Linked DNA regions of Homo sapiens. The protein of the gene in region 1 interacts with the protein of each later gene in a pairwise test. Each region holds a gene or a part of one and is shown in the gene's direction. Other genes may lie near its edges.

Region 1 (4,468 bases):
GGGGTGTTGAGAGGGTCCCGGTGTTCTTGGGGCCCATTTTGTACAAGCGATAACTATTGAAGAAAAGAGAAGAATACAGTTCTTAACCCTTTCCTTATGCCTCACAAATTCAGCTTGATTTAAAAGCCTACTAGGACCATAATTTTAAAACAAAAAGCTTATTAGGAATATGGTGTCTGGAATTTGCTCCACAATTGCAGGAGTAGTTGCAGTTGGGGGGAGGGGGAGCAGGATTTCAGAGGTTGGTGGTTCTTGGTTATGGGTGGTGGACACATGGCATTTCATGATATTATGCTGTCTGCTCTGTGATGGTTCAAAATTCTCCGTAATAATAAAGTTTAAAAAGAAAGGCCTATTAGATTTTTACTTAGCAAGATCTCAGGGTTTTGAAATCGCAGCAGGCAGGCGTGGAGAAAGCAGGCGGAGAGGGATTCCTGTTCTGTGAGTGTTTGTTTTTCTCCTTTTATCTGTCATTTTCAAAACGCTGCTGTGTTTCCTCTGATAATTTATCCTATTTACTTATTAGCTTTTAATTTTTAAAAAGGTAACACATACAGCATAGAGAAGGATAAGAAAACTCTAGCCCAGGACTGCCATAGAAACGCAACAGCAGCCACGTATGTAACTTTAAATTTTCCAGTAGGCACATGTTAAAAAGTAAAAAGAAACATAAGAAATTAATTTTAGTAAGATGTTTATTTAACCCATTATGTAAAATATTATAATTTCAATGTAAAACTAATATTAAAAACTATTGAGATATTTTACATTCCTTTTTCTTAGATTAAGTCTTTGAAACATCGTGTGGATTTTGGCCAGGCGCGGTGGCTCATGCCGGTAATCCCAGCACTTTGGGAGGCCAAGGCGGGCAGATCACTTGAGGTCAGGAGTTCGAGACCAGCCTGACCAACATGTTGAAACCCTGTCTCTACTAAAAATACAAAAAGAAAATTAGCTGGGCGTGGTGGTGCATGCCTGTAGTCCCAGCTACTGGGGAGGCTGAGGCAGGAGAATCATTTGAACCTGGGAGGTGGAGGTTGTGATGAGCCAAGATCACGCCACTGCACTCCAGCCTGGGTGACAGAGTGAGACTGCATCTCAAAAAAAAAAAGAAAAGAAACATTGTGTGGGTTTGACACTTACATCTCCTGACATCTCCATTTGCATTAGCCACGTTTTTCTATGCACAGCAGCCTCGCATGTCTAGGGGCTGCCATATTGGTCAGCACAGCTCTGGAGAGTACAAAAGGGACACAAAAAAGATCACTCTCTGTTCTGACCTCCAGCTGACCCCTACCTGCCAGCCCTCTGGTCCACTTCCCAGAGGCAACCTCTGTAACCAGTGTCTTAAAAAATATCTTGTGATCCTCCAAGCTTTTGTAACTTAAGCAAATGAAATACCATTTATCTCCCTGTTTCTTACCTAAATGGAAACATTTCACAGGCGTTCCTTTATACTTTCCCTTTTCACTTAATGTGTTCTATTCAATGGCTGTTCTGATGATGCCTTGCTATGTTTTGTGGGAGAACCTCGCCAGGTACACCTTCTACCCTCAGCGTCAGGCCCAGATACCCATATTCAGAAATACATCTGACTCTGGGGACAGTGATTCCTTAAGGGACGTGGGCCTCTTCTTAGGTGTCACCTCCTTAAAGCTACAGCCAGTATCCCTGGCCTGAGGGACTGGTATGTGTGAGGGCTTACGGCAGAGCCCGGGACACCCTTGCCCTTTTGAGATCCTGCAAAGTGCCGGTCTGGCCAGCAGATGTCCTGGAGGCCGCACCTCATAGGTGGAAGGTTCTGGTGCATTTGGCTGCTGCCCCAACACAGACCTCACAGTGCCTGCCCACGATCCCTGGGTTGATTTTGTGGCTGGTGGTTTCCCTGAGCAGCGTCCATCTGCTTCAGAGAGCTGAGGAGGTGGCTGGGTGAGCAAGCCTCTTCTGCCCTTCTCCCTGGTGACGCTCATGTTCAAGGACTCCCAGACAAACCCCCCCTCACTCTCTGGAGCTGATGGGACCTGGGGAGGAGCCTTTCCTTGTCAGCTCCTTGGCTGGTCTCCACATGCTTTGATTCCAGCTCAGAGGAACTCACTTGAGAATGCTGGTTTTTATCAGCACCCCAGCCAGCAGAGTGAGGTCTTTGGATCTTGAGCTGCAGTCTCTGAGTTGGGCCTCCTTCCTCTTTTGTTTCAGTCACTTCTTCACGAACGATCCTGGATGCAAATGAAGAATTTAAGTCCATGTCGGGCACCATCCAGCTGGGCCGGAAGCTTATCACAAAATACAATCGCCGGGAGCTGACGGACAAGCTTCTCATCTTCCTTGCGCTAGCCCTGTTTCTTGCTACGGTCCTCTATATTGTGAAAAAGCGGCTCTTTCCATTTTTGTGAGATCCCAAAGGTGCCAGTTCTGGCCCTTTCAGCTCCTGTTTCAGGATCTGTCCTGGTTCCTGAGCTCTAGGCTGCTAAGCTGAGCCACACACCCCTCCGTTTGCACCAGTTGCCTGCAGGTTGGATGGAACACAGTGCCCCACTTTTCTGCAAGTAGCTGGCTTGTAAAGGGTGAACAGAGCCATGGGAGGAAGGTCTGGCATTGGGATGCCGCCCTGGGGACATACGAACCGCCTCCTTCCACCATTGTGCACTATGGGAGGCCGCTGCTGCGTGGAGCACTTAAAGTCCAGCCTCCAGGACCGGATGCCCCTCCTGTCTCCCGCTCCCATCGTGCCCTTAAATGCCAGATCTGGTGGAGGGAAGAGAGAAGAGGTAGGAAGAAAGGTGATGAAAACTCCTGGTCATTCCTTGAATAAACTTGATTTTATTTAATAGAATAAAATGTATTTGATTTTGTAAGATAGCCCTCTGGGAATGTGTGTTCCTCTTTTCTTTTTTCTTTTTTTTTGAGATGGAGACTTGCTCTATCATCCAGGCAGGAGTGCAATGGCGCAATCTTGGCTCACTGCAGCCTCTGCCTCCTGGGTTCAAAAGATTCTCTTGCCTCAGCCTCCCAAGTAGCTAGGATTACAGGCACACACCACCATACCCAGCTAATTTTTGTATTTTTTTAGTAGAGATGGGGTTTCTCCATGTTGGCCAGGCTGCTGTCGAACACCTGACCTCAGGTGATCCACCCATCTTGGCCTCCCAAAGTGCTGGGATTACAGGTGTGAGCCACCATGCCCAGCCCTCTTTTCTTGATGTCCAGATTTTTAGGACATGAACCTAGATTATTTATTTATTCATTCATTCAACAACGAATTAGCATTGTTATTTTCTTTCTGTCCCCACCCAACAACAAGGAACTATTAAACAGCTGCCACACACAGGGTGTTATAGACGCTGCTGAACATGACAAATACATTGGTGAACCAGACATGGTTCCTCCCTCAAGGAGGAACAGAAGGAGACACGGAAATAAAATCTCACAGACTATCAGGAAGGAGGGTCCAACAGCCCCTGTTCAACCAGGTGTGGTGGCTGATACCTCTAATCCCAGCATTTTGGGAGGCTGAGGCAGGATGATCACTTGAGCCCAGGAGTTCAAGACCAGCTAGACAACATAGCAAGACCCTGTCTGTATTTAAAAAAAAAAAACAAAAAAACAGAAACAGAACAGAAAACAGCCCTTGTTGGAAGTGGCTCACACCAACATCTGAAAAGGCTGCAATGCCATTCTCTACCACAGCAGCCTGGCCAGGCCTGGGGGTGTGCAGTGATTCGGGCTGGCACATGCCTTTCTCTCTGATGTCCAGAGCTAAGTATAACCAAGGAGGGAGAAGCTAGTGAGAAGCTGAGACTGTGTGAGCCTGAGTTCTGTCCAGGCCAGAGGGAGAGGGCCCAGGCTAGGCCAGTCCTAGAGGTGCTGTGTCTTTTGTGCTGCAGGCCTGGCTGACCTCAAGCTTGAAATCCCAGCCTCCCCCACTATTTATAGCCCCAGAGGACCTGGGAAGGGCAGTGTGGAGGCTGAAGGGAAAGTGGGAAGAACATGGACTTTGATCCTTGGCTCAAACACTTGGTTTTGAGATTTGGCTCCACTGCTAATGGACCACAGGACCATTGGCAAGTTACTTTATGTTGCTAAGCCTCAGTTTTCCTATCTGTAAAATGGAGGTGATAATCCATATGGGTCCTCATAGAGTCAACTTGAGAATCCAATGAGAATATAAAGCAGCAAGTGTAGCTAGCTGTCTTCAGACCAGGCCTGCCATGGCCTTTCCAAATGCTGCCACCCCCTGGGCCCTGGGCACTGAGGTTTCCTGCAGCTGACAGCAGCGGTGCTTCAGGAAAAGCTGGGCCAGGCACCAGCATTCTGTTAGAGGTGTTTGAGCAGAGGATGTCAAGAGTTAAGGCCTCAGTTATAAAGTGGCAGATCATCATGGGACCAAGTTATAAAAAACTAGCTGCACATCTCAGACCAGCTTAATGAGTGGATTCCAAGTTAAAGTGTGGATCTAAGTATAGATCCA
Region 2 (4,611 bases), on another chromosome or scaffold:
CAGATTAATTTTTTAAGTAAGGTATTTTAATACCTAGTTCACTAATCCAGAAGCATTTTGCATATACAGGCTTTAGTAAAAATGACAGTTTAAATAGGGAGTTATTATGATCAACAATTAAGTTAAATTCATTTAGGTTGGTTCTAAGAAGTTGAATTTTCTTTTACTACTTTAAAAATACATTATTTCTTCAAAATACGACATAAAATGTTTTGCATTGCCAAGAATAAACTAGAAATTAGATTTGCAACCTTCAACTGTTGTTTAGCTTTTAGAAATATAAAAATTAATATTAATATATTTTTATAATGTGTTAAAAGATGAATTTTTGTTAATCCCATCCATATTTCATTATCATGCTTGTTTCAGAAATGTTTTACTTGTGGCAACATTCCATTATAAAATTGATTTATGGTTGTGTATTTGAATATGCTGGACAATCAATTCATTTTAAGTAAAATAATGTGTTGCATTTTATATATATAGTTACACATATGTAAGTTATGCGATTTACAGCTCTAGAGAAAAACATTCAAGTTAGTTATTCATGGGAATAAAATAGGTGCATGTTCTCAATGAAAAAGTTAGAAAAATGTCTTGAATATGGTGACTGTTTACATTATAGAATTGTAATTAACCCTAACTTAATCTCTCAGTGCCCCTGTACTCTTGTCTTCAGTGTCTCGAGATATTTCAGCAAATGGCTACCATCGCCCCGTACGTACCTCTCCAGTTACATTCTTGCCTGCTTTAGGAGTGGACACACAGAGCAGCCTCCAAGCTGCCCTGATAAATTTCACGTGTATAATATGGAAGACAAATGTTTCCTTAACATATTTATTTTCTGTGTATGAAGTTTTTCATTAACTTTTCATCCCAAGATAACCACCTCTGTTTTTAGTGCGCTTTATTTCTTGTTTTTGTTCTGTAGGGTCTCTGTAAAACATAATGTGTGACATAAGTAATGAAGCATAATTTTCAAAAGCCACTTGCAGGAGTCAGTATTGTTTCTTTGGTTTTTATACCATGTATTTTTTGTTGGGACTCAAAGGACAGTGATCCGTATTTAGTCAAATTAGGAAATTAAGTTGAAACATCTTGATTCCTAAAAAGTGTATTTTATAAAACATTTACTGATTAATGAATTTTATGGTATTTTGTTCTCTCTATAGATAAGCGTGTGGAAAATTGGCCTCTGATGCAGTCTCCTTGGCCTACACTAAGTATAAGCACTCTTTATCTCCTGTTTGTGTGGCTGGGTCCAAAATGGATGAAGGACCGAGAACCTTTTCAGATGCGTCTAGTGCTCATTATCTATAATTTTGGGATGGTTTTGCTTAACCTCTTTATCTTCAGAGAGGTATGTTTTTAAGATCACTTTAATAATTTTCCAAGGTTATTGGAAATTTAAAAATGAGAATGTGTAAAACCATCATTGTAATATTTTACCCAGACATAACTGTTAGCTACTCTAAAAGTACATTTTTGACATTTTTCACTTTTGAATAACAAAAATATTAAACATGAGGTATAGGAAAGTTGTTTAAAGTGGAATTTTGAATAAGACCAACTGGATTCTAAAGTAACCCTTATTAGCTGTTCTGGCATTGAAAGTTATTTAACTTTTCTTAGCCTCGTTTTCCCCACTTAAATACCTACCATCTCAGGTTATTATCGGAGTAAAGTAAGATAATTTTTGCATAGTGTTTGGCACGTATTAAGCACTCAGTAAACAGTAGCAGCTATTTATTTATAATTCTTATTCAGTAGTTTCTGGTTTGGTAACTGATCAAAATATGCCAATTTCAAGTAAATCCTATTACATAATGTTGTATTTTGGGCTGGAATTAAAATGAATTAACTGCCATATAGCTGTTGTTACTAATCATTATATACTTTTCTGGGCACTAGCAAATTCTCCACAACATTTTCAAAGGAAATCCTAAAGGCTAGATTGACACAGCCATTTTTTAAATTGCATATGTATAAAGAATTTGTTTCCTAAGAGACTCATTAAAATTCTGTATGAAGCCAGAGAACTGACTAGTAATGCTAGGAAAATAAACAATAACTCTTCTTAGAAAAAGAAATATTTCTTTACTTGAAAACTTAGCCTCGAGTCTCAACTTCATGAACACTTTAATTTATTTGGATACCTGTACCTAATTTGTTAGATGCAAACCACTCTGGATCAAACATAGAAACCAGTTAAGGTAGGACAACTTTGAAATCTGAGTCCTAGCAATAAAAATTTCTCTTAATACTGTGAAGTATTTAATAGATAGAGTCAATGTTCAGTATAAAATTTACATGTGATTTTTAATTTAGATTTTAATTATAGAACAAATTAATGCACAGTAACTTCTAGCAATCGGAATGCATGAAATTTTTAATGCATTTGAAATTTTTAAAGAAAATATTGTGTTTAAAATAATTTGAAAGGCTACATTTTGTATATAATTGTGTTTTTAATGCTGTGTTTACTAAAACTTTACTACAAATATTATTACTCTTTTTCCAGTTATTCATGGGATCATATAATGCGGGATATAGCTATATTTGCCAGAGTGTGGATTATTCTAATAATGTTCATGAAGTCAGGGTAAGTACATTAAAAATACTCTTAATCAGTAAAAGTGGTTTGATTTTTATAGGCCCCAGTCTGTGAAAATATAGAATGTACTTTTTTTTAAGAGACAGTTTCTTTAACATTCATTTAGAGACAGTTTCTTGCTCTGTCCCCCAGACTGAAGTGCAGTGGTATGATCATAGCTCACTGCAGCCTCAAACTCCTGGGCTCAATTGATCCTTCTGCCTCAGCCTCCCAAGTAGCTGGGACTACGGGTGTACCCCACCATGCCTAGATATTTTTTTACTTTTTGTAGAGACAGGGTCTTGCTATGTTGCCCAGTCTGGTCTTGAACTCCCAGCCGCAAGGGATCCTCTTGCCTCAGCCTCCCAAAGTGCTGAGATTACAGGTGTGAGCCACCACACCTGGCAAAATGTACTTTAATATGATAGTGAAATTATACTAGATTGTTATGAGTCAGTAAAACTATGCTTTTTTAAAAAGTACTTAATTTAAAATTTGTTTTTGTATCTCAAAAATGTTTTTTATTTTGCAGCATGAGTGAATATGCATTGAATTACTAGAATGCAGTACTTGTTAAAGCAAAGAAGTCTCATGTTTATTTTAAAGACATTATTTTAGATTTTTGTTTGTTTGTTTTTGCTCAAGAGTAGAAACTCTTAGAGTCCAAGTTATGTGTTAAGAAAGTGAGGAAAAGTAAATGTTTTGTGAAGTGTGGAATATTTAGGAAATTAGGCATAGAACAATTTGTATTGGCATAAACTCAGTTTTTTTATATTTGCAGAAAAATAAAACACTAGTAACAAGATGTTATATTTTATTTTCCATTCACTTACATGAGTAAAATTAACATTAAGCAAAAGAAACAACAGATTACCTTATTCTATTACGTATTTATTGAACTCTTCTTATATACTGTGGTTCATACTAGAAATTACATATAAAACATAACATGTTTTATGTTACCTATAGTATATGTAGTAATAATATCTAGTGGCTTCCCTTGAGAAAAATAGTTTCCTGGCATGGGGAGTGGACAATATATAAATATCAGTATTCATCAAGACTGGAGACAAAATTGGTTTAATGTACTTAACAATTTTATGTACGTATCTTCATTTCCCTATTAGAAGACTTATGGACTGATGAAAAATCACCTGTCTTGGTTGTCATGTTGGTTTTATTTATTCATTAAATATGTATTGAGCATCTACTATATGTTGGTACTGGGGACAGGGGTGAAAAGCCCTGCCTTTGTGGGGCTGGCATTTTAGTGAGGGTGAGAAGGCAGACAGCAGCCATGTAAACAAATGACTAAGGAGGAAATAAAACCTAGAAGGTGACTGAGAGAAAATGAGAGACTACTCAGATGTATTGGCTATGAAAAATTTTCTTCTGATAACTATTGCCAAAGAATCTCTTCAGTTGGAGGGCTGACTTCTTGCTTGCCGTAGGGAAGGGAACAGGGATAAGTGTTTGACTGACTGACTTCTGGGAGTATGCATAGAAAAACCCTTGGGTGGGGCAACATATTACTATTTTTAGGATAAAGGTTTAAAAATACCACTCTCACTTACAGATGTAAATTTTCAAGTCTTTAAAAAATGAGCTATTATGAGAACTGTAATCTAGGAGGATAAAGAACCTGAGATTTGCAACAGATTTCATTTGAAATCTTCCTCGTGCTCTCTTCTCCTCTCTAATATGGGATGCAATAGAGTGAATATTTTACGCAGAGACTCATTTCTGTATTCATTGTTACGTAGCCAAGAAGTATCACTTTTTGGTGTAGTTTATTTAAAGATATCTAGTGCAGTTTGCAAACTAAGCAGACTTATTTGTTGTTATTTTATGTGAATTGTGGCAAATGTAGAGGTCCAGATAGAGGAGAAATAAGAGATTGTATCTTTCCTTCTAGTTAAAGGTTACGATGCCAAAATGGTGACAGTTACTTTATTTTAAAGAACTAATATAATAGTGAATATTAACTATAGTGTTGCTGGGAGTAGTTAACTATTTCA
Region 3 (3,701 bases), on another chromosome or scaffold:
AGGTGGTGACTGCCCTGGCCCAGAGGCCACCCACCGACGTGGGGCAGGCAGAGGCCACCCGCAAGGCTGCCCGCATGGTCTGGGCCAACCTCCTGGTGTTCGTGGTCTGCTTCCTGCCCCTGCACGTGGGGCTGACAGTGCGCCTCGCAGTGGGCTGGAACGCCTGTGCCCTCCTGGAGACGATCCGTCGCGCCCTGTACATAACCAGCAAGCTCTCAGATGCCAACTGCTGCCTGGACGCCATCTGCTACTACTACATGGCCAAGGAGTTCCAGGAGGCGTCTGCACTGGCCGTGGCTCCCAGTGCTAAGGCCCACAAAAGCCAGGACTCTCTGTGCGTGACCCTCGCCTAAGAGGCGTGCTGTGGGCGCTGTGGGCCAGGTCTCGGGGGCTCCGGGAGGTGCTGCCTGCCAGGGGAAGCTGGAACCAGTAGCAAGGAGCCCGAGATCAGCCCTGAACTCACTGTGTATTCTCTTGGAGCCTTGGGTGGGCAGGGACGGCCCAGGTACCTGCTCTCTTGGGAAGAGAGAGGGACAGGGACAAGGGCAAGAGGACTGAGGCCAGAGCAAGGCCAATGTCAGAGACCCCCGGGATGGGGCCTCACACTTGCCACCCCCAGAACCAGCTCACCTGGCCAGAGTGGGTTCCTGCTGGCCAGGGTGCAGCCTTGATGACACCTGCCGCTGCCCCTCGGGGCTGGAATAAAACTCCCCACCCAGAGTCAGTCCTAGTGGGGCCCTCTGTGTTTCGCACTCGTGTGGTGGGAGGCAGGGAGGGAGCGCGTGGCTCAGAGGGCTGGCGGACATCTTCCAGGGACCCTTCGGGGCTCTTCACTTTGAGGTCCCCCTTGGACCCTTTCACCCCTTCCCACCCCCACCCACCTGGAGCGTGAGCAGGGGCTGTTGGAAGCTCCTGGCAGGACCACAGTAGAGGCCCCCAGCCCAGGTTTCCTTGCTCAAGACAGGGCTGGGAGCAGCTGATCTCCATGTAGGGGCTGCACAGCGGTGCAAGGGGGGGTGACCAAGGTCAAGCAGGTGAGGGTGGGTTGGGGTGGGTGGCAGTGAAGGGGGTGGCCAGGGTCTGTCAAGGAACCCAGCCCTCTTCTCCTTCCTTCAGGGAAAGGCTGGAAACCATGTCTGGCAGGGGCAGGGGTTGGGTGCCCACTCAGGTAAAGGCACGATGTCCTGCTGGTTTCTGCCTCTCCTGTACTCCTGCATGGAGGGCATCTCGAAACCCAAGCTGGAAGGACAGGGCACTCCAGAGACCTCCTGTGAGTGTGGGCCAGCACGGCCTGGGCTCAAACCCCATCCTGTCATCCCATATTGCATGTCCACAGGCACCGCCCCACCCTGTTCCATGTTCCACAGGACTGGAGAGAGATGGCAGTCATGTTCTGGCAGGGACATGGCACAAGCATGCGGCTGATGGCATCTCACAGGACCCAGGCTCCGGAGGGCCCATGCCCAGGAGAGCCCCATAAGGGCTCTGTGCCTAAAAGGGTGCATGCCCAGGTGGGCCCATGCCCAGGAAGGTCCATGCCCAGGATGGTCCATGAGCAGGAGGGCCTCATTCCCAGGAGGGTCCCGTGCCCAGGAGGGCTCTATGCCCAAAAGGGTCCCATGTCCGGGAGGGTCCATACGCAAGGGTGTCCATGCCTGGTTGGGGGGGGTCTATGTCCAGGAGGGTCCCATGCCTGGAAGGGTCCATGCTCAGGAGGGTTCATGCCCAGGAGAGTTTATGCCCTGGAGGGCCCCATGCCCGGGAGAGTCACGTGCACAGAGGGCCCTGTGCTCAGGAGGATACATGTCCAGGAGTGTCCCTGTCCAGGAGGCTCCATGCCCAGGAGGCTCCATGTCAAGAAAGATTCATGCCTAGGAGGGTTCATGCCCAGGAGTGTCCCTGCCTAGGAAGATCCATTACCAGAAGGGCCCATGTCAAGGAGCGTTCATGCCCAGGAAGGTCCAGCCCAGGAGGGTCCATGTCAAGGAGGTTCCATGCCCAGGAGGGTCCATGCTGAGGTGGGTCCATGCCCAGGAGGGTTCATGTCCAGAAAGGTCCATGCCTAGGAGGGCCCATACACAACAGAGCCCTGTGCCCAGGAAGGACCATGTCAAGGAGAACCCCATGCCCATGAGGGTCCATGCCCAGTAAGGGCCATGCCCATGAGATCCTCATGCCCAGGAAGGCCCATGCCCAGGAGGGTCCATGCCCAGGCCAGTTCATGCACAGGAGGGCCCCATGCCTAAAAGTGTCCATGCCCAGGAAGGTCCATGTCCAGAAGAGTCCATACCCAGGAGGGCTGATATGGTTAGGCTTTGTGTCTCCACCCAAATCTCATCTTGAATTGTAATCCCTATAATAACCATAGTCCCCATGTGTCAAGGGAGAGACCAGGTGGAGGCAATTGGATCATGGGGGCTGTTTCCCACATGCTGTTCTCATGATAGTGAGTGAGTTCTCATGAGATCTGATGGTTTTATAAGGGGCTCTTCCCTTCACTTCTCCTTCCTACTGTCTTATGAAGAAGGTTCCTTGCTTCCCCTTCACCTTCTGCCATGATTGTAAGTTTCCTGAGGCCTCCCTAGCCATGCTGAAGTGTGAGTCAATTAAACCTCTTTCCTTTAAAATTACCCAGTCTTGGGCAGTTCTTTATAACAGTATGAAAACAGACGAATGCAGTAAATTGGTACCACAGAGAGTGGGGTGCTGCTGTAAAGATACCCAAAAATGTCGAAGCAACTTTGGAACCGGGTAATAGTCAGAGGTTGGAACAGTTTGGAGGGCTCAGAAGAAGACAGAAAGATGTGGGAAAGTATGGAACTTCCTAGAGACTTGTTGAATGGCTTTGATCAAAATGCTGATAGGGATATGGACAATGAATTCCAGGTTGAGGTGGTCTCAGATGGAGATGAGGAATTTGCTGGAAACTGGAATAAAGGTGATTCTTGCTATGCTTTAGCAAAGAGATTGGCAGCATTTTGCCCCTGCCTTAGAGATCTGTGGAACTTTGAATGTGAGAGAGATGATTTAGGGTATCTGGCAGAAGAAATTTCTAAGCAGCAAAGCATTCAAGAGTGCTCTTAAAAGCATTCAATTTTATGCATTCACAAAGAGATGATTTGGAATTGGAACTCACATTTAAAAGGGAAGCAGAGCATAAAAGTTTAGAAAATTTGCATCCTGACTATGGGATAGAAAAGAAAAACTCATTTTCTGAGGAGAAATTCAAGCCAGCTGCAGAAATTTGCATAAGTAACTAGGAGCCACATGTTAATAGCATAGACAATGAGGGAAATGTCTCCAGGGCATGTCAGAGGTCTTCACAGCAACCCCACCCATCACAGGCCTGGAGGCTTAGGAGGAAAAAATGGTTTTGTCGTTGGGGCCCAGGGCCTTGCTGGTTTGTGCAGTCTCAGGACTTGGTGCCCCACATCCCAGCAGTGGCTAAAAGGGGCCAATGTACAGCTTAGACCTTTGCTTCAGAGGTGCAAGCCCCAAGCCTTGGTGGCTTACATGTGGTGTTGGGCCTGCAGATACACAGAAGTTTGCTGCACTGGTGGAACCCTCATGTAGAACCTCTGCTAGGGCAGTGTAGAAGTGATATGTGGGGTTGGAGCCCCCCCACACAATCCCCACTGGGGCACTGCCTACTGCTACTGGAACTGTGAGAAGAAGGCCACCATCCTCCAGACCCTAGAATG
Region 4 (4,611 bases), on another chromosome or scaffold:
CCAGGTGGGGAAGAATTTTGAGAGGTGAAGGTAGGATACTTTCATTTTAAAGTCATTAGAAAAATATGAAAGTGCCATTTTCCCAGTGTATACACTGATTATTTCTAGCCAAGCATTTGATATGTGAAAGACCAAATCCAGTTTTCAAAATGTGTACTTAATTCCTTGTTCCTGGTGATTTGCAATCCCATATACACATCTGGGGTTCTCAAAAACACAATGTGACATGGGAACTGACACAAAAAAAACTGGGCTGAACTTTTTGGCTTGTCCTCATGTAGATCATAAATGAACTTTTTGAGAGTCTTTGAATGTCCCAGCCTAGCCAGACTGGGGGCAGGTATGAAGCAAATGGCAAATTAAATTGTTTAAGAGGCTTTTGATCAAAAAGGGTAAATGCTATTTTCCCATTTTTCTTCATGAAGATACAAACACTTAAGTAAAATAGAAGGATTACAGAAAACTATCATCTACATTTACTGATCATTTTATCTGTATTCTACAAGGCCAGCCTAATAATCTTTACTTTCCACCGGTAAGGAAACTAAGGTTCAAAGAGGTAAAGATCATGCAACTAAGAAGTATCAGAAGTGAAATTCAAACATAGTTACTCCTCGTTCTCAGGGAATCTCAGTGTAATAAGGGATATAAATGCACAAGAAATTAAAATATTAGATTAAAAAATAATAAAAGATTAAAATCCTACATTGGAAGGTCAATTAAAAATAAATAAAAAATAAAAGATTAGACAAGATATAAGTGCCATAAGATAATTTTCAAAAAATGCTATCGAGATTCAAAGGAAAGAAAAAGACATATCTAGCTAGAAAACTTGCTGAGAAGTATTTTATTTTATATCTATTCTACTATGCAGGATACTGTGCTAGACATTGAGAATATAAAAGTGAATAAGCAACATCCCTGCCCTCAGGGAGTTTTTACTCTAGTATGTTATGGGAGACTTGGACAGTATTTGAAAAGGCACCAAATGCTGTCAGATAAATAAGTATTTGTGGTCAGTCTGTCCTTGTTTGGAATTCATTTCACCCTGGAAACCTAGACCTGTGTCTGTCACAGAGCCTTGAAACTATCTTTTGCTATAAATAGGCATGGCTGGCATTAAGAGGACTTCCTCTGTAAAAATATCAGATTTCATTCTCACAACTCCAGCCATGCTTTTCAGTTTGGATACTGTCTTGAGAAAGTGCTCAACCACGAAAACATTCTTAATGAGGATTTTTTTTATTGAGGGGTGAATTTGGAACACGGGCTTTGGAGTAAGATGACCCATATTTGAGTCCCAGGTCTTCCATTGTGTGACTTTGGGAAAGTTAAATGTTGCTTTAGGTAACTCATTTGTAAAAGGGATTTAAAAATACCCTCACAGGGCTGTTGTAAGAGTTAAATGAGATACATGTCTAAAGTAACTTTAAAAAATGCCTGGGGTATACACAACCCCTCAAAACAGCCACTGTTGCTATGATCAGTCATGGTAATACTAGATAAAGCTTTCTTCACAAACAGTACTATGGCCCTGCTTTGAATATTCTCTCAATGAATATGTCTGTACCCCCTAAATTATAACTTAGAAACCTCCAGGATTACTTTAGATCATTTTATTTAAGTATACATGAAGACATTTACCTCACACTATAACACAGGATCAGAAAACTACCAAGTCACATACAACCCAAGTACTCACTATATTTCTGATTTTTCATCCTATGTTTTAGAGCACTTGACCTGGGTGCCAACATGTGTCTCTCTTCTCCCATGTTCCCAGCCTGAACACTCTGCTTATTTCTTGGCCTCCTATTTATTCCAAGCCCCATCTTACTGCCATTTTGCCCTTTCTTCTGAGCAGTAACATGTGCCTGGCATACCTTTTCTCCCCTCTGTCATTAAAATAGCTCCTGAAAATACAGCAGAAGCCTTCCAAGTGGTTGATAAGAAAACCTACTATATCCCTTGGCCTTCTCAGTCCCTATGTCCTCTACAGAAAGCAAAAGCAAACTAAAAATGAGGATGACACTTGATACAGAAAATAGGAACACAACACTGAGGTGATGGGAGTTCCCAGGATGATAGTGAAAGCAATTGCAGAATGATAGCCGTGCACACCAGATGAAGGAAGTCCACACAAGGCTCTGAGAGAGAATTCTTCCAGAAGATAAAATTGATAGTATACCTGACCTCTTTGAGAGGAAATTTAGGCAATTGATTTAAGGTTGGATCAATAAGTACGTTGAAAACCGAACAAAGGGAAAAAATAAGACAGTAATTCCAGAAAAAACAAAAATAGTACAGGAAGAGAAAACCAGTGATACCTCACTACTTGGCTTAGCTTTAAATTGCACTTACAAATTCATAATATAAAATCTCATATTGATCTAAATGAAGTTATGATGTAATTATATTGGAAAGCTGGGTATAAGTATGTGGTGGGGGTAACGGGGAGGAAAGAGAACTAAATCTTTTTCTGTAGTAGAAAGTTAATAGTCCTCAAAACTGAAAAAGCAAGAAGTAACAAAACAAGCATTTCCTTCCTTCCTTCCTTCCTTTTCTTTCTTTCTTTCTTTCCTCACTTTGTTGTCCAGGCTGGGGTACATCACAGCTCACTGCAGCCACGAACCCCCAGGCTCAAGCAATCCCCCTATTTCAGTCTCCTCAGTAGCTGGGACTACAGGTGTGTGCCACCACACACAGCTAATTTTTTTTAAGAAGTTTCAAGTAGAGATGGGAGTCTCACTAGGTTGCCCATGCTGGTCTCAAACTCCTGAGCTCAAGCAATCCTCCCATCTCGGCCTCCCAAAGTGCTGGGATTACAGGCGTGAGCCACCATGCCTGGCAGAAGCATATTATTATTATTATTTTTTTTTTTTTTAAAGTAGAGACAGAGTCTCCCTATGTTGCCCAAGCTAGTCTCAAACCCCTGGGCTCAAGGGATCCTCCCTCCTCAGCCTCCCAAAGTGCTGGGATTACAGGTGTGACCCCTGCACCCAGCTGCAAAGCGTATTATTTAGAAATATGGAGGTAGATATCAAAATGGTCAAAATAGCAAATGTTTTTGAGGAGGAGGAAATTGGAAGAGGTGAGCATGGGAATGCCCTTTTTTTGTACTAATCATATAGAATGGTTTGACTTTTTAAACTTTATGCAAGTGTAACTTCAAAAACACAAATGCATAACCACGAAGGCCAAAAAAGAAGGTGAAAGAGAATAGCTACAGGGAAGAAAAATAGGTTACACATTTTATTTATTTATTTATTTTTAAAAATATGATTTAAGGCCGGGCGCAGTGGCTTATGCCTGTAATCCCAGCACTTTGGAAGGCCATGGTGGGCAGATCACTTGACGTCAGGAGTTCGAGGCCAGCCTGGCCAACATGGTGAAACCCCATCTGTACTAAATACAAAAAGTAGCCGGGTGTGGTGGCAGGTGGCTGTAATCCCAGCTACTCAGGAGATTGAGACGGGAGAATCGCATGATCCCAGGAGGTGGAGGTTGCAGTGAGGTGAGACTGTGCTGCTGCACTCCAGCCTGGGCAACAGAGCAAGACTCTGTCTCAAAAAATAAATAAATAAATATATATATATATATCATTTAAAAATATGGTGTGTACACTAGGAAAATTTTCAAAGAATATACCAAAATACCTCTGAATTTAAAGTAATTTTTCCCTCCTTTGTTATACTTCTGTGAATTTTTTGCATTATTACCTTTGTAATCAGACGGAAAAGCTGTTGCATATTACAGGAACAGGAAACAATTAGAAATGTGAGAGGAAAGCCGTGTACAAAGATGTTCACTACAACACTGTTTATAGCACTAAGAAATCAAACAACCTGTGTAATCAGGAAGTGGGCAATAAATGATGCTGCATAAACCTAGTGAAATATTTTACAGGTGTAATTTTTAAAAAGAGGCTCTAAACAACTTTATACTCATATCATATGGTTTTCACCTTTATTCGTACTGTACTCCTAGCTAAAATGCTCTAATGCCTTTTCCCTCTTTCCTTTTTCTTTTCTTTTCTTTTCTTTTGACAGATTCTTCCTCTGTTGCCCAGGCTGGAGTGCAGTGGTACAATCTTGGCTCACTGCAACCTCCACCTCCTGGGTTCATGCAATTCTCCTGCCTCAGCCTTCCCAGTAGCTGGGATTACAGGCACTCACCACAACGCCTAGCTAATTTTTGTATTTTTAGTAGAGACGGGGTTTTATCATGTTGATCAGGCTGGTCTTGAACTCTTGACCTCAAGTGATCCACCTGTCTCGGCCTCCCAAAGTGCTGGGATTACAGGCGTGAGCCACGACGCCCAGCCTCCACTTTCTTTTCGTCGATATTTTCTTACTATTACATCCTTCAGGAAACCCTCTGACAGCCACCTGAATCACCTCCCCGCCCCATTCCTTTCTCACCTCCATCCTAACTGCGTGAGTTAACTCATTCTGTGTCTTCAAAATATTCTGAACAGATACTCTATATCTGTACTTACCACCTAATATTATAATTATGTGTTTGTCTGACTTTCCCACTAAACTTTAACCCTGAAAGCTGGGATTGGGTCTTACTCATTGTTATCATTTCAGTACAAAGCAGAGGGCCTAA
Region 5 (4,611 bases), on another chromosome or scaffold:
TGGGATTATAGGCATGAGCCACGCTCCCAGCAGATCTATTTCTATAAAGCATTATTTGCCTCTTCTAGATACAATTGAGATGTGCTGTATATAATGGGGTTTCACTCTGAACGCATTCTCGCTTGTACCTGTTAACTAAATACCTTAATGGCAGCAAGGTCATCAGAATTACCTGGGCAGATTCCTTAAAATACACATTCCTGGACCTTACCCCTGGATATTCTAATTCAGTGCAGTATAAAAAGTGTGATTCAGCAAGACTTGAGAACCTCTTTGTTTATGGAATTTTTGGTTTGAGTTCTTTTTTTTTTTTTTTTTTTTTGAAATGGAGTCTCACTCTGTCGCCCAGGCTGGAGTGCAGTGGCGTGATCTCAGCTCACTGCAAGCTCCACCTCCCGGGTTCACAAGCGATTCTCCTGCCTCAGCCTCCCTAGTAGCTGTGATTACAGGCACGCACCATCATGCCGGGCTAATTTTTGTGTTTTTGTAGAGATGGGGTTTCACTATGTTGGCCAGGGTGGTCTGGTCTGGAACTCCTGACCTCAAGTGATCCACCCTCCTTGGCCTCCCAAAGTGCTGGGATTACACGCGTGAGCCACCACACCTGGCCTGAGTTCTTTTTTTTTTTTTTTTTTTTTTTTTTTTGAGATAGAGTCTAGCTCTAGCTTTGTCGCCCAGGCTGGAGTGCAGTGGTGCGATCTCGGCTCACTGCAAGCTCCGCCTCCCGGGTTCACCCCATTCTCCTGCCTCAGCCTCCGGAGTAGCTGGGATTACAGGCGCCCGTCACCACGCTTGGCTAATTTTTTTGTATTTTTAGTAGAGACGGGATTTCACCGTGTTAGCCAGGATGGTCTGTATCTCCTGACCTCGTGATCTGCTCCCTCGGCCTCCAAAAGTGCTGGGATTACAGGCGTGAGCCACCGCGCCTAGCCCATTATCAGATATTTTGAAGTAGCTATTTTGAGGTGGCCATTTTAGTATCAGAACTTTTTTTCTTTTTCTCTTTTCTTTTCTTTTTTCTTTTTTTTTTTTTTTTTTGAGACAGTCTTGCTCTGTTGCCCAGGCTGCAGTGTAGTGGTGTGATCTTGGCTTACTGCAACCTCCGCCTCCTGGGTTCAAGCAGTTCTCCTGCCTCAGCCTCTCGAGTAGCTGGGATTACAGATGCCCGCCACCACGCATGGCTAATTTTTGTATTTTTAGTAGAGACGGGCTTTCACCATGTTAGCCAGGATGGTCTCGATCTCCTGACCTCGCGATCCGCCTGCCTTGGCCTCCCAAAGTGCTGGGATTTGTATATTTCTTAATAATGAAAGCAAGCTGAGAATCAGATATTTTGAAGTAGCTGTTTTGAGGTGGCCATTTTAGTATCATTTTAGTATCAGAACGTTTTTTTTTTTTGAGACAGAGTCTTGCTCTGTTACCCAGGCTGGAGTGTAGTGGCGTGATCTTGGCTCACTGCAACCTCCGCCTCCTGGGTTCAAGCAATCTTCCTGCCTCAGCCTCTCGAGTAGCTGGGATTACAGGCAGATACCTGTAATATATATATACAGGCTGATAAATATTATATACTTATATAGTATATATAAATATATAATATAATATGTATATATGAGATGTGCTGTATAATAATAATTAATAGTATAATACATATACATATACATATATAATAGTATAATACATATACTATTAATACTATAATACTATAGTATATTATACTATAATATACTATTACTATATTATACTGTTATACTATATTATACTATAGTATACTAATAATAGTATATACTATTATTATATACTAATATAATAGTATAGTATACTAATACTATATTATACTATTAATATATAATATACATACATATACATATAATATGTGTAATATAATACATATATGTATATATGAGTTGTGCTGTATATAATGCTGTGTATGTATATATGAGATGTATATGTAGATGTATATGTATATAATGCTGTATATGTATATATGTACATATTATATATGTATATATAATATATATTATATAATATAAATATAACAATATAAATATTATATATATATCCAGGAATCTGCCCAAGTAATTCTGATGACCTTGTTGACATTAAGGTAGTTAGTTAGGTACAAGCAAGAATGCGTTCAGAGTGAAACCCCATTATATACAGCACATCTCAATTGTATCTAGAAGAGGCAAATAATGCTTTATAGAAATATATCTGCTGGAGCGTGGCTTATGCCTAGAATCCCAGCACTTTGGGAGGCCGAGGTGGGTGGATCCCCTGAGCTCAGGAGTTCGAGATCAGCCTGGGCAACATGGTCACCTGAAGTCAGGAGTTCAAGACCAGCCTGGCCAATATGATGAAACCCTGTCTCTATAAAAATGCAAAAATTAGCTGGGCATGATGGCAGGTGCCTGTAATCCCAGCTACTTGGGAGGTTGAGGTGAGAGAATCACTTGAACCTGGGAGGCGGAGGTTGTAGTGAGCTGAGATCATGCCACTGCACCCCAGCCTGGACAACAGAGCAAGACACCATCTCAAAAAAAAAAAAAAATATATATATATAAATATATATATATATATATTTATATATATTTATATATATATATTTATATATATTTATATATATATATTTATATATATATATTTATATATATTTATATATATATTTATATATATATATTTATATATATATTTTATATTTATATATATATATAAAATCATATATATATACACGCAAAACATATTCTCTCTTATTTGAGAGAGCTAAAAATTAAAATAATCGAACTCTTGGAGATAGAGAGTAGAAGGATGGTTACCAGAGGCTGGGAAGGGTAGAGGTGGTGTAGGGAAGAAGTAGGGATGGTTAATGGGTACCAAAAATTAGAACAAATAGGCTACTCTGGTTGCACTGCCTGTGAGTTAGCCCTGCTCTGCAAGGAGCAGCCATAAAGAATTTTTTGTTAGTAAAAATGATTAATAATAGTAATTTAATTGTACATTTTAAAATAACTAAAAGTATAATTGGATTGTTTGTAACACAAAGGGTAAATGCTTGAGGGGATGGATACCTGATTTACCCTGATGTGATAATTATGCACTGCATGCCTGTATCAAAATGTCTCATGTAACCTTGAATATATACACTACTATGTACCCACAAAAATTTAAAAACAAAATTAATACAAAAAAATACAAAACAGACATTCATATCCTGGGGAGGTAATAGGCAATGATGAAGAAAGGGTCAAGAGTGTCTGGGAAAATCCTTTGGTAATATAAAATAGTATATAGGTATAAATGGTGTTGATCAGGGTCAAAAAACTTAGCTTGACACTTTACTAACGTAAATATAATCTGATGAAATTCAATTCTGACTGAAGAGCCTTCAGCATGGCAGATTGATGCCCTACAGGAGTACTGGTAGACTTTTGCCCATGGCCTCCTTTCTGTTTGGGGTGGCTTGTCTTGGGCTCTGACGTCAGACAGATCTGGGAGAGTCCCAGCTCCATCTTTTAATAGCCATGTGACCTTGGGTATGAAACTCAACCATTCTGTTTCATGTTTTCATCTTTAAAGTGAGCATATAAGAATTGCTGTCTCATTGAGTTACTGTGAGAATTCAATAAGAAAAATAATGAAATCATGTAAATGCATAACAAAGTAAAAGCCCCTCATAGGCTATTTGCCACTTTTCCCTCAGTCCCCCAACACACTGTAGCACTATCTCTAAATAATGATAACTCTGTTAATAGAGCTAGGTTTCATTTGAAACACAGTGTATAACAAAATGCATTAGGACGCTAGGGTCTATCCGCCCAAGCATCTTAGTTGCTTATGGAACCATAAAAATCTCATATAAGGTATTTTTGCATTGCTACCCCTTGGAATTATGGTACTCCAATCTTATAAAAAGTAGGGCTTAAGCATCAAGATTCTATGATCTTTCTTAGTTGAAGAGATAGTTATTGATTATATTCTAGTCCAGAAGATATAACAATTATTTTGAAAAAAAGTTACATTACCTGTAATGGTCCCCTTTTGAGTATAGTCTTTTTTTTTTTTGAGACAGAGTCTCGCTCTGTCGCTCAGGCTAGAGCACAGTGGCGCAATCTCAGCTCACTGCAACCTCCGCCTCCCGGGTTCAGGCGATTCTCCTGCCTCAGCCTCCTGAGCAGCTGGGATTACAGGTGCACGTCACCACGCCTAGCTAATTTTTGTACTTTTAGTAGAGACTGGGTTTCACCATGTTGGTCAGGCTGGTCTTGAACTCCTGACCTCATGATCCACCTGCCTCAGCCTCCCAAAGTGCTGGGATTACAGGTGTGAGCCACTGTGCCCGGCCTACAAATAGTCTTTTTTTAAAAATATTTTTCTTTCTTTTTGAGACAGAGTCTTGCTCTGTCACCCAGGCGGGCGTGCAATGGTGCAATCTCAGCTCACTGCAACCTCCACCTCCCAGGTGCAAGCAATCCTCCCAGTTCAACCTTCCGAGTAGCTGGGACTACAGGAACCCACCACCACACTCACCTAATTTTTGTGTTTTCAATAGAGATGCAGTTTCACCATGTCAATCAGGCTGGTCTTGAACTCCTGGCCTCAAGTGATCCACCCACC
Region 6 (4,611 bases), on another chromosome or scaffold:
TCACACAACTTCAGCTCCAATATTATGGAAACAAGTTAGAGAACTAAACCAGCAGCCTTTTCTAAAAGAGTAGCAGGGCTTCAGGAAGTCTGGAGAACTAGAGTCCACATGTACTTTCATATTTAGAATTATACTGTTGAATTTTAGAACTAGAATAGCTTTGAATATCATTTAGCACCATCGTTTTACAAGAAAGAAAACTTGGAAACCAAAAGATGGTCATTAGTCTAAGTCACATGATTGAAAAATTAGAACCCAGTTAACTTGATTCCAGGCCCAGGGCCTTTCCCACTATTTCATGGTGTCTGAAATACTCTTCCATACTGCTTTCTTTGATTATCTTTGACTAAACGTCAGCATCAGTGAACTAAATTAAACAACATGCCAAAAATACAAACACTTAACATACAAGCATTCCTCTTACCTTTCTTCCAACTCCTTTGTCTTCCAGCTCTTTCCCCTCTGGTCCTACTATTCCAGTGTTGTCTAACCCAACATACCTGGGAGATATGACCCACCTTCCTCAGTAACAGTTTTCTCTGAAGCAGCAATTCACAAATGGGAATGGTAGTGTGTCATTTCTTTACTTGCCCTATCTTGTCTATATCTCCTCTTCTATGACCTATTCCCCAAAAAATAATTTTCCCAAAATTGGTTACCCTAAGCAACTGCCCATGTTCTCATAGGGACTGGGAAAAGGCCCTAATAAGACCTAAGGATTTTTATAAATAAAGATCATTATAAGTGCTAATATCTATGAAATGCTTATCATATGTGAGGCACTATGTGAAGTTATTTCATCAATCATTTTACTGAATTATCACAATTCTGTCAAGTAGGTGGCTCCACTAAAGATGGTCCTAGGATTCTAGTTCGCTCTAACATACAGCAGAACCTGATGTTCTGTTCATTTCCTCTTTCTTCTCTTTCCAGCTCATAGTAAAGTCTCATCTTCATCAATTGGATTTTTGTATTTAATTGATAGTTCCATCCTGCTCCAAAACATAGCATTTAGAAATTCAAATTCAGTTCAAATGACACTGTTTTGCTCTCTCATCTCTTAATATTTACCAAACATATTCTCCCCATTTGTTATCTCTTATTTAAAAATTCCCATATGGCTTCTTATTGATAATGTCAACATTCTGCTTCAAACCTTCTCTAGAGCCAATTAAGGTATAATTTGTAATTAAATACATAACTTCTATTGTACCTTCACTAGGTGATCTGTCAAGAATGCTATTGCTGAGGTGCTCTGGGCCCTGTGAACCAGAACCTTAAACTGTCTAGAACTGCTCTGTCCAACATGGTAGTTGCTAGCCACATGTAACTATTTATAATTAAATTTTAATTAAACTTTTTAAAATTAAAAATTTAGCCCCCCAGTCACACTAGTCATATTTCAAGTGCTCAATAACTCTATATGGCTAATGACAACTGTGTTGGACAGGGCAGATATCAGAAAATTTTTATCATTTAAGAAAGTTGTGTTGAAAAATGCTGCTTTAGACAGTACTAAACACACCCTCACAGCAACCAAGAACTAGGAACTGGGAAGAAGTAAGGACCTACTCTTCTTTGAATCTTCTGCCAAGAAAGAAAGAAAAAGCCACTTATGCCTAATACATCACCAGTAGCCCAAAGATACCTAGGACAATTAGGCTATGAAGGAGTGTGCATGTCTTACTTAAGGAGCTGGTAGCCTCTGGAGTTTGCTTCATATGAATTCTATGTTACTATAAAGTAAAATATTCCATGAATGAGGTTTGCTGGTTTCATGAATTTTGACTTAGATACAATCTGAAAGTTCCAATTCAAAATCCAAGTTTATAGATTACATGTATATGTAATAACATGTGTGTGTGTTTATCTTGTCTTAGTAATCATAGTATGATAGACATGGAAAGAATATAAGACTTGGAGTCAGTAGTACAGGTGTCACATACTACTTGGTGACATTATGAGGCCCTCTAGAGCTCCATTTCTCCATCTCTAAGATGTTGATGAGAATTGCCATAACTATCTCAAAGGACTATTGTAAAACTCAAAGTGTAGGTATACGAAAGTACTTTGTAAGGAGCATGATTGAATCTGCAATGGTTTATTATTTTATATAGATATGGTACAATGTACAAATAGGGTAGTTCAGGCTGAATGCATTTCTGAATGATTTTAATCTGATATGACTGTATTTTTGCCTTTGTGGTCATTTATTTCACTGAAAAGTGGAACGGTGAAGAAAAAATTTAGTTATTGAAATTTCTGATTGGTTAGATTCTATTAATTGAAATACCGTGCATTGTTTGTTGTTTAGTTTATTTGGTCCTGAACATTTTCTTCTCAGGATTAAAAAAAATAATAACTAGGAAATCTAAGTTGTTTGGAACAGCTTTTACCTTTTAACTAATAGTTTTTAAGTAATCATCAATAATGAACCCATCATGGTAATAGGGGTTCAGAAATAACAAAATACAAGCATTATGGATATTCCTCAGTGTGAGGGGGTGAGAGGGATAATTTTCAAAACATATTTTTACTAATTACAAATTGAAATGAGCTTCTATCCATTCTCATAGATCAATCAGAACAAGAATAATTCTATTTCATGCATTGATTAAACCAAAACAAAAGTGAAGGTCATTAACTTGACTGAATTATTGAGTTTGCATTAGGGATTCTAACCTTAAATAACAAGTCTTTATTCATTCTCTAAGTTGAAATCTGTTGGGGTCATTAGGAGAACCTTATGCATCTGGCTAACATTTACTCCCAAACCTGGCATCTATGACCTACTCCCGCACTTTGATCTGTGTATGCTATTTATGCGTCAAGTAAAACTGCTTTTCAGATGCAGCCATACCTTCTATAGTGGCTCACGATTTTGATACTTAAATATTTTTCTCTTATAACACAAAGATTAACACAGTGCTCAGATATTGTAGAAAATAAGCCTGGAAACAAAGCTATTCCATCAGATGTTTCTTCACTGTATTTATTAGGTTTTATCATCTTGAAAACTCAACGAAGTCACTTTATTTATTCATTCATTCATTAACAAAGCACCTGAGAATCAAGCTGAGTATGACCAAGGGCATGAGGTTTTATCTCCAGTTCCAGAGATCTAGTTTACCTTTGTTTAGAGTTAACAAAGGTATAGATGCTACCTTGTAAGATGCTCTGCCAGGTAAATAGTTGAGATATACACTTAGCCACTGTTTCTGGTCAAGCCTGCTGTCCTCAAGCCTTTGTTGCATATGGGACTATATTACTGAAGGAAAAATAAGCGAAGCTGTTAACTCTGGCCTCTAGTAGATGATGCTAGCTTTAACAATAAACATATGTTGTTGGGCGTCATGATTTATTCACTTCATTGGACTTGTTTACCTCTTGGAAAGACCTGGATTTTGGAAAGGGGAAAATGCCATTACCTTGGAGCTGAAAAGAGTTCTTCTCTGTCTGTAGCTTAAAGGATTTCTCTAATTGTAGATCCCAAGAGATAAAGAGAACTGACAATGTAGCTTTGAAACAAATCCTAATAGCATACAATCATCCATTTAATCAATAACATAGTTGAAGAATGTCCTATTTTGACACAAAAATGTTGTGGTTAAGGATGTTTGGAACACATGGATGATCAATAAATATTTGGTGAATTCAGACCATTGTTCCAGGTTAATTCATGCCATACACTCGTCTATCTCTACCAAGAATTCAGTATTCCCTATGGCATTTTCCTTTAGCAAATAAAACAGGAGGCAAACACAGTATATCAAATCTTACCCTAATAACCACACTTCTAGCCCTTCTCGGGGCATAAATAGTGATGGCCAAGATAGACTACTCCTGAGAACCGTGTCTTGCTGCTTCACCCAGAAAACAAAGCACAAATCAGCCCAAGGGCCTTGCATTTCACTGTGATGAGGCAACTTCAGAAACTCAAAGCTTAAATGGAGTTGTGTGTTCTTTTCCACTCTTATCTTGAAGAGATACCTGTCATTTCCTTCAGAAAGTATTTGGCTGGCCTTCATGATAGCAGCAGGCAATTGCTATTGTTCCTAAATTCAGAAGAAGCTTAGCTTAGAATGAAAGCACATATATTAATTAGAGGAGAACTAGCGACATTGCAGTCTGATGGTTTACAGAATATTATCCTTTTCCAGGAATAATAAGGCTTCCCTTTAACGGTTTTAACTGGTGATTACTGACAAAAATGAAAGAAAAACAGCTCATTCTATTCTAGCAAGTCAATAAGGAAACGCCTAGAATTAACTGATTCTTATTTGCCAAAGGCAAAATATTCCAACCCAATGAACAACAAATGATCAAGCTGGTTCTCATTTTCTCTTCATTTTAAAAAAATTTTTCCATGTTTTTGAAAAATAATCAGTAAATAAGAAACAATTGCACCCAGGTGTTTAAACATTCTGTTGACAAAATGGTCTTCAGAAATGGAAAGGCTTAATTGTTTGTTAGAGATTATACAACATATTATTATGTCAATATTTTATAACAATCACATAACTGAACTCTCTCACTTTAGAGAGAAATTGATGCTGGGAACACTCACCTGAGTTGATGTCAGAGGAATATGACTTGAGTCTTCTCTCTCTC
Region 7 (4,204 bases), on another chromosome or scaffold:
CGCCCTGCTTCCTTTGGTGGGAATAAGTAGCTATGCCAAAGTCAGTATCTGCCTGCCCATGGACACCGAGACCCCTCTTGCTCTGGCATATATTGTTTTTGTTCTGACGCTCAACATAGTTGCCTTCGTCATCGTCTGCTGCTGTTATGTGAAGATCTACATCACAGTCCGAAATCCGCAGTACAACCCAGGGGACAAAGATACCAAAATTGCCAAGAGGATGGCTGTGTTGATCTTCACCGACTTCATATGCATGGCCCCAATCTCATTCTATGCTCTGTCAGCAATTCTGAACAAGCCTCTCATCACTGTTAGCAACTCCAAAATCTTGCTGGTACTCTTCTATCCACTTAACTCCTGTGCCAATCCATTCCTCTATGCTATTTTCACCAAGGCCTTCCAGAGGGATGTGTTCATCCTACTCAGCAAGTTTGGCATCTGTAAACGCCAGGCTCAGGCATACCGGGGGCAGAGGGTTCCTCCAAAGAACAGCACTGATATTCAGGTTCAAAAGGTTACCCACGAGATGAGGCAGGGTCTCCACAACATGGAAGATGTCTATGAACTGATTGAAAACTCCCATCTAACCCCAAAGAAGCAAGGCCAAATCTCAGAAGAGTATATGCAAACGGTTTTGTAAGTTAACACTACACTACTCACAATGGTAGGGGAACTTACAAAATAATAGTTTCTTGAATATGCATTCCAATCCCATGACACCCCCAACACATAGCTGCCCTCACTCTTGTGCAGGCGATGTTTCAATGTTTCATGGGGCAAGAGTTTATCTCTGGAGAGTGATTAGTATTAACCTAATCATTGCCCCCAAGAAGGAAGTTAGGCTACCAGCATATTTGAATGCCAGGTGAAATCAAAATAATCTACACTATCTAGAAGACTTTCTTGATGCCAAGTCCAGAGATGTCATTGTGTAGGATGTTCAGTAAATATTAACTGAGCTATGTCAATATAGAGCTTCTCAGTTTTGTATAACATTTCATACTAAAGATTCAGCAAATGGAAAATGCTATTAATTTGGTTGGTGACCACAAGATAAAATCAGTCCCACGTTGGCTCAGTTCAACTAGATGTTCCCTGATACAAAGAGAACTTGATTTCCTTAAAACTGAAAAGCCAAACACAGCTAGCTGTCATACAAGAAACAGCTATTATGAGACATGAAGGAGGGTAAGAATTAGCTTTAAGTTTTGTTTTGCTTTGTTTTGTTTTTTAACTCAACCTATTAATCATCTCTTCACAAGAATCCACCTGATGTGACCAAGCTATTATGTGTTGCCTGGAAAAACTGGCAAGATTTCAGCTTATGTGGCCTAGCAAACTAAGAATTGCTCTTCTTGGCCAGCCTCATAGCATAAAAGATGTGAACTCTAGGAAGTCTTTCTGAGTAGCAATAAGTGGGAATTATGGGCAGAGCACACTCAATCCCCTGTTGATTAATAAAACAGGCTGGACACTAATTAACTATGGGACTTAAATCTGTAGAAATGAAGGAGTCCAATAGCTTCTTCCAATTTTAAAACTCTAGTACATCCCTTTCCCTCAAATATATATTTCTAAGATAAAGAGAAAGAAGAGCACTAAGTAAGTAGAATCTGTTTTTCCTATTTTGTAGGGCTGCTGACTCCTAGTCCTTGAAGCCTAGACACATGACCCAGGAAATTTTTCCTTTGTTTCACTTTTGATTATGATGTCTGAGCCAAAAATTCAATTAAGTAAACATACTCGCCTGGATCTGAATCATTCATTTAATTACTAGATCTACCCAGCTGTTATATCAGGCCAAAAACAGATTCGTGTTTATATAAAAGAGTAAACGATGGTTGCAAATTTTGGCTATTTAGAGTTGCTACTTCACTATGAAGAGTCACTTCAAAACACTTCGCTTGTCTTTAGGGATGATTTTTGCCATTTCCAGTCCACGGTATGATACTAAAGCTGTCAAGAGAGGTTTCTTCTTTTCTGAAACTGCCAGCTCTTTCCAGCCCTGTTGATCACTGGACATAAAGCTTCTTTTCCCCAATAATTCTTCTTTACTTAAAATAGTCAGGATCTTTATCTACAGATGTACTCTCCAGGTTACCTGTGATGATAGCCCCCTAATGTCCTGCTAGAAAAGTCTCCAAGCAGAGATGACATTACTTCTGAATGCTCATAAACCACACCATGAAATAAAAGCTCTTTGTTGTTTTAAGATTGTGAAGTGTCGTTAATGGGTCCCCACAGATGGTCCCTGCTGGACTCACCTGGAATCTCTCCACAGCCATACCCACTCATCACTATCATTGAGACCTGCACATCTTAATAGAAATATTATAAACATCGAAAATCATGACTTACCTAGAAGTTCGCTTGTAACTAATGAAATTAAACAAATGTGTTGCCTTTTGTCATGTGTTTCTCTCCTGTGACATTTCAAAATATCACATCTTGATAAATAATGTGTTTCATCTTGAATAGCTGAACTAATTGCTTTGGAAACAGAGTCCTAGAAAAGTGACTTCAACAGAATTGTTACTAAAATTTGCACTCACAACATGAAATAAATTTTCTTCCTATGGAATAATCGTGCCAAGTCCTAGAGTGTTGTTCTTTTTTGTTAATCTGTGAGTTTCTTTCGGGGTTACTATTGTATGTGTTAAAACTGAAGACAAGAAAACTAATTGGCACATTTGCTAATGAATCCATATTAATAAATAAGTTGTTGACTGTCAATTAATAACTTAAATATAACATTGTGTCTTGATCAAAAGTGGTCTTTATGTGGAAAAACTTACTCCTGGTGAACTGAATTATGATTAATTGACAGGGATCACTAAGAGAAAAAACAATAAAACCAAATATATCAAGCAAATGATTGGTATTGACACTAGAAATTTAAATAGTGTGCTAATGAAGACAATAAACCTCTAAGGCCTCAGAGGCCTTATTATTATTCAGAGCTCATGTTATCTAGCACCTTTCAATTATCTGAAGATAAACCCAAATCATTGAGGATAAATGGCCACAGACTAGTCGCAGTGGAGGTCACACAATTCATTCTCTAAAGCTCATGCATGTTTCTCAAAAGGCTGTCTCTTAAAACACCCCCAAAGTTTATTGACTCTTGCTTTAAGGATAATCTACTGCATCAAAGAAGCAGCCAATGAGGAGAGGGTCTTACAGGGCAGCACCATGAGAGTGGCAATAAAGTAAAAGTCAGGGCAAAAAGAAGAAAACTATAACCACAATACTTTTTTAAAACAATAGAAGTTTGAGAACAAATGCTCCTACTTTAGGAGAAAACTGTTTCATAACATAATTGAGTGATTCTCATTCATTCTGAGTACCTAAAGGGTGCCAGAGAAACTTGTTGGCATCACTGCATTCTGTTTTAAAAGCTATAAAAGTTCCAGCTCCAAGTGGTAGACTGACTTTCTTTCAAATCCCACTGACATGACAGGGAAGAAATTTAAAATGAGACCAAGCCAAAACTGCATGGTGAACAGGAGAAATAGAACCACCAGCAAAGCAAACGTGTTGATAGCTTTCTGAAAGATGGAAGGTGTATGGCCTTGAGTTGATGGTAACTAACTGTACAGGAGGTTACAGCCTAGAACACTGACAGGATAAGGCTGCAGCTACAGAAGAATATACTTCCCTGCAGAGTCCCAGTGAGCCTGCCAAGCCTGAAGGTTACAGGACTGAGGGTTAATTAGGGCAATTAATTGAAAGTCTGTGTCACTTGGACCCTCCAATCTGCCATCACTCCATTCATAGAATAACTGACATATGCAGTGTTTGCTGCAATTAATATCTCAAAGAAAGTGAATGATTCCTGTAAACAGGGAACTCCTCCCACTGGCCCACTTCCTGCCCTCACACATAAGTGAAGCCTGATCATTGAGGCGTTACCATCAGCACCCCCCACCACCCCCACCTGAAGTCAGGGAGAAACATCTTGGGGAAAATGATCTATACAATCTGCTGACATTAGCTATTCTCATTCTTCACTCAAAAATATAAAGAAGACACAATAATTGCCAGACATTTGAGAGAAATAAACTGCACATCAATAGCACACAGACACAGAGACACACACACACACACAAGGCCAGAATGTACAAAAGAACATTTCTCCAGAGAAAATAGATCATTCATAAACAGAATATTGTTGTTTAATTTCACTTAATAACTTCAGAGAAAT

What was found.
Region 2: the proteins of BNIP1 (region 1) and ELOVL4 interact in binary tests that used the Homo sapiens proteins (3 or more experiments, as listed by UniProt).
Region 3: the proteins of BNIP1 (region 1) and GPR35 interact in a two-hybrid assay, tested with the Homo sapiens proteins (one large-scale study listed by BioGRID and IntAct).
Region 4: the proteins of BNIP1 (region 1) and STOM interact in binary tests that used the Homo sapiens proteins (3 or more experiments, as listed by UniProt).
Region 5: the proteins of BNIP1 (region 1) and HSD17B11 interact in binary tests that used the Homo sapiens proteins (3 or more experiments, as listed by UniProt).
Region 6: the proteins of BNIP1 (region 1) and SLC7A14 interact in binary tests that used the Homo sapiens proteins (3 or more experiments, as listed by UniProt).
Region 7: the proteins of BNIP1 (region 1) and TSHR interact in a two-hybrid assay, tested with the Homo sapiens proteins (one large-scale study listed by BioGRID and IntAct).

What each region holds. Positions count from the first base shown.
Region 1 is NC_000005.10:173,161,529-173,165,996, forward strand, and holds the end of BNIP1 (vesicle transport protein SEC20), read left to right. Parts: intron 1-544; coding exon of another isoform or gene 545-617; intron 618-783; coding exon of another isoform or gene 784-796; exon of another isoform or gene 797-832; intron 833-2,196; coding exon 2,197-2,393; 3' UTR 2,394-2,859; downstream 2,860-4,468. UniProt on the Homo sapiens protein: As part of a SNARE complex may be involved in endoplasmic reticulum membranes fusion and be required for the maintenance of endoplasmic reticulum organization. Also plays a role in apoptosis.
Region 2 is NC_000006.12:79,922,943-79,927,553, reverse strand, and holds part of ELOVL4 (very long chain fatty acid elongase 4), read left to right. Parts: intron 1-1,172; coding exon 1,173-1,360; intron 1,361-2,521; coding exon 2,522-2,602; intron 2,603-4,611. UniProt on the Homo sapiens protein: Catalyzes the first and rate-limiting reaction of the four reactions that constitute the long-chain fatty acids elongation cycle.
Region 3 is NC_000002.12:240,630,530-240,634,230, forward strand, and holds the end of GPR35 (G-protein coupled receptor 35), read left to right. Parts: coding exon 1-353; 3' UTR 354-2,630; downstream 2,631-3,701. UniProt on the Homo sapiens protein: G-protein coupled receptor that binds to several ligands including the tryptophan metabolite kynurenic acid (KYNA), lysophosphatidic acid (LPA) or 5-hydroxyindoleacetic acid (5-HIAA) with high affinity, leading to rapid and transient activation of numerous intracellular signaling pathways.
Region 4 is NC_000009.12:121,356,414-121,361,024, reverse strand, and holds part of STOM (stomatin), read left to right. Parts: intron 1-4,611. UniProt on the Homo sapiens protein: Regulates ion channel activity and transmembrane ion transport. Regulates ASIC2 and ASIC3 channel activity.
Region 5 is NC_000004.12:87,376,898-87,381,508, reverse strand, and holds part of HSD17B11 (estradiol 17-beta-dehydrogenase 11 precursor), read left to right. Parts: intron 1-4,611. UniProt on the Homo sapiens protein: Can convert androstan-3-alpha,17-beta-diol (3-alpha-diol) to androsterone in vitro, suggesting that it may participate in androgen metabolism during steroidogenesis.
Region 6 is NC_000003.12:170,579,185-170,583,795, reverse strand, and holds part of SLC7A14 (solute carrier family 7 member 14), read left to right. Parts: intron 1-4,611. UniProt on the Homo sapiens protein: Imports 4-aminobutanoate (GABA) into lysosomes. May act as a GABA sensor that regulates mTORC2-dependent INS signaling and gluconeogenesis. The transport mechanism and substrate selectivity remain to be elucidated.
Region 7 is NC_000014.9:81,143,714-81,147,917, forward strand, and holds the end of TSHR (thyrotropin receptor isoform 1 precursor), read left to right. Parts: coding exon 1-640; 3' UTR 641-2,593; downstream 2,594-4,204. UniProt on the Homo sapiens protein: Receptor for the thyroid-stimulating hormone (TSH) or thyrotropin. Also acts as a receptor for the heterodimeric glycoprotein hormone (GPHA2:GPHB5) or thyrostimulin. The activity of this receptor is mediated by G proteins which activate adenylate cyclase.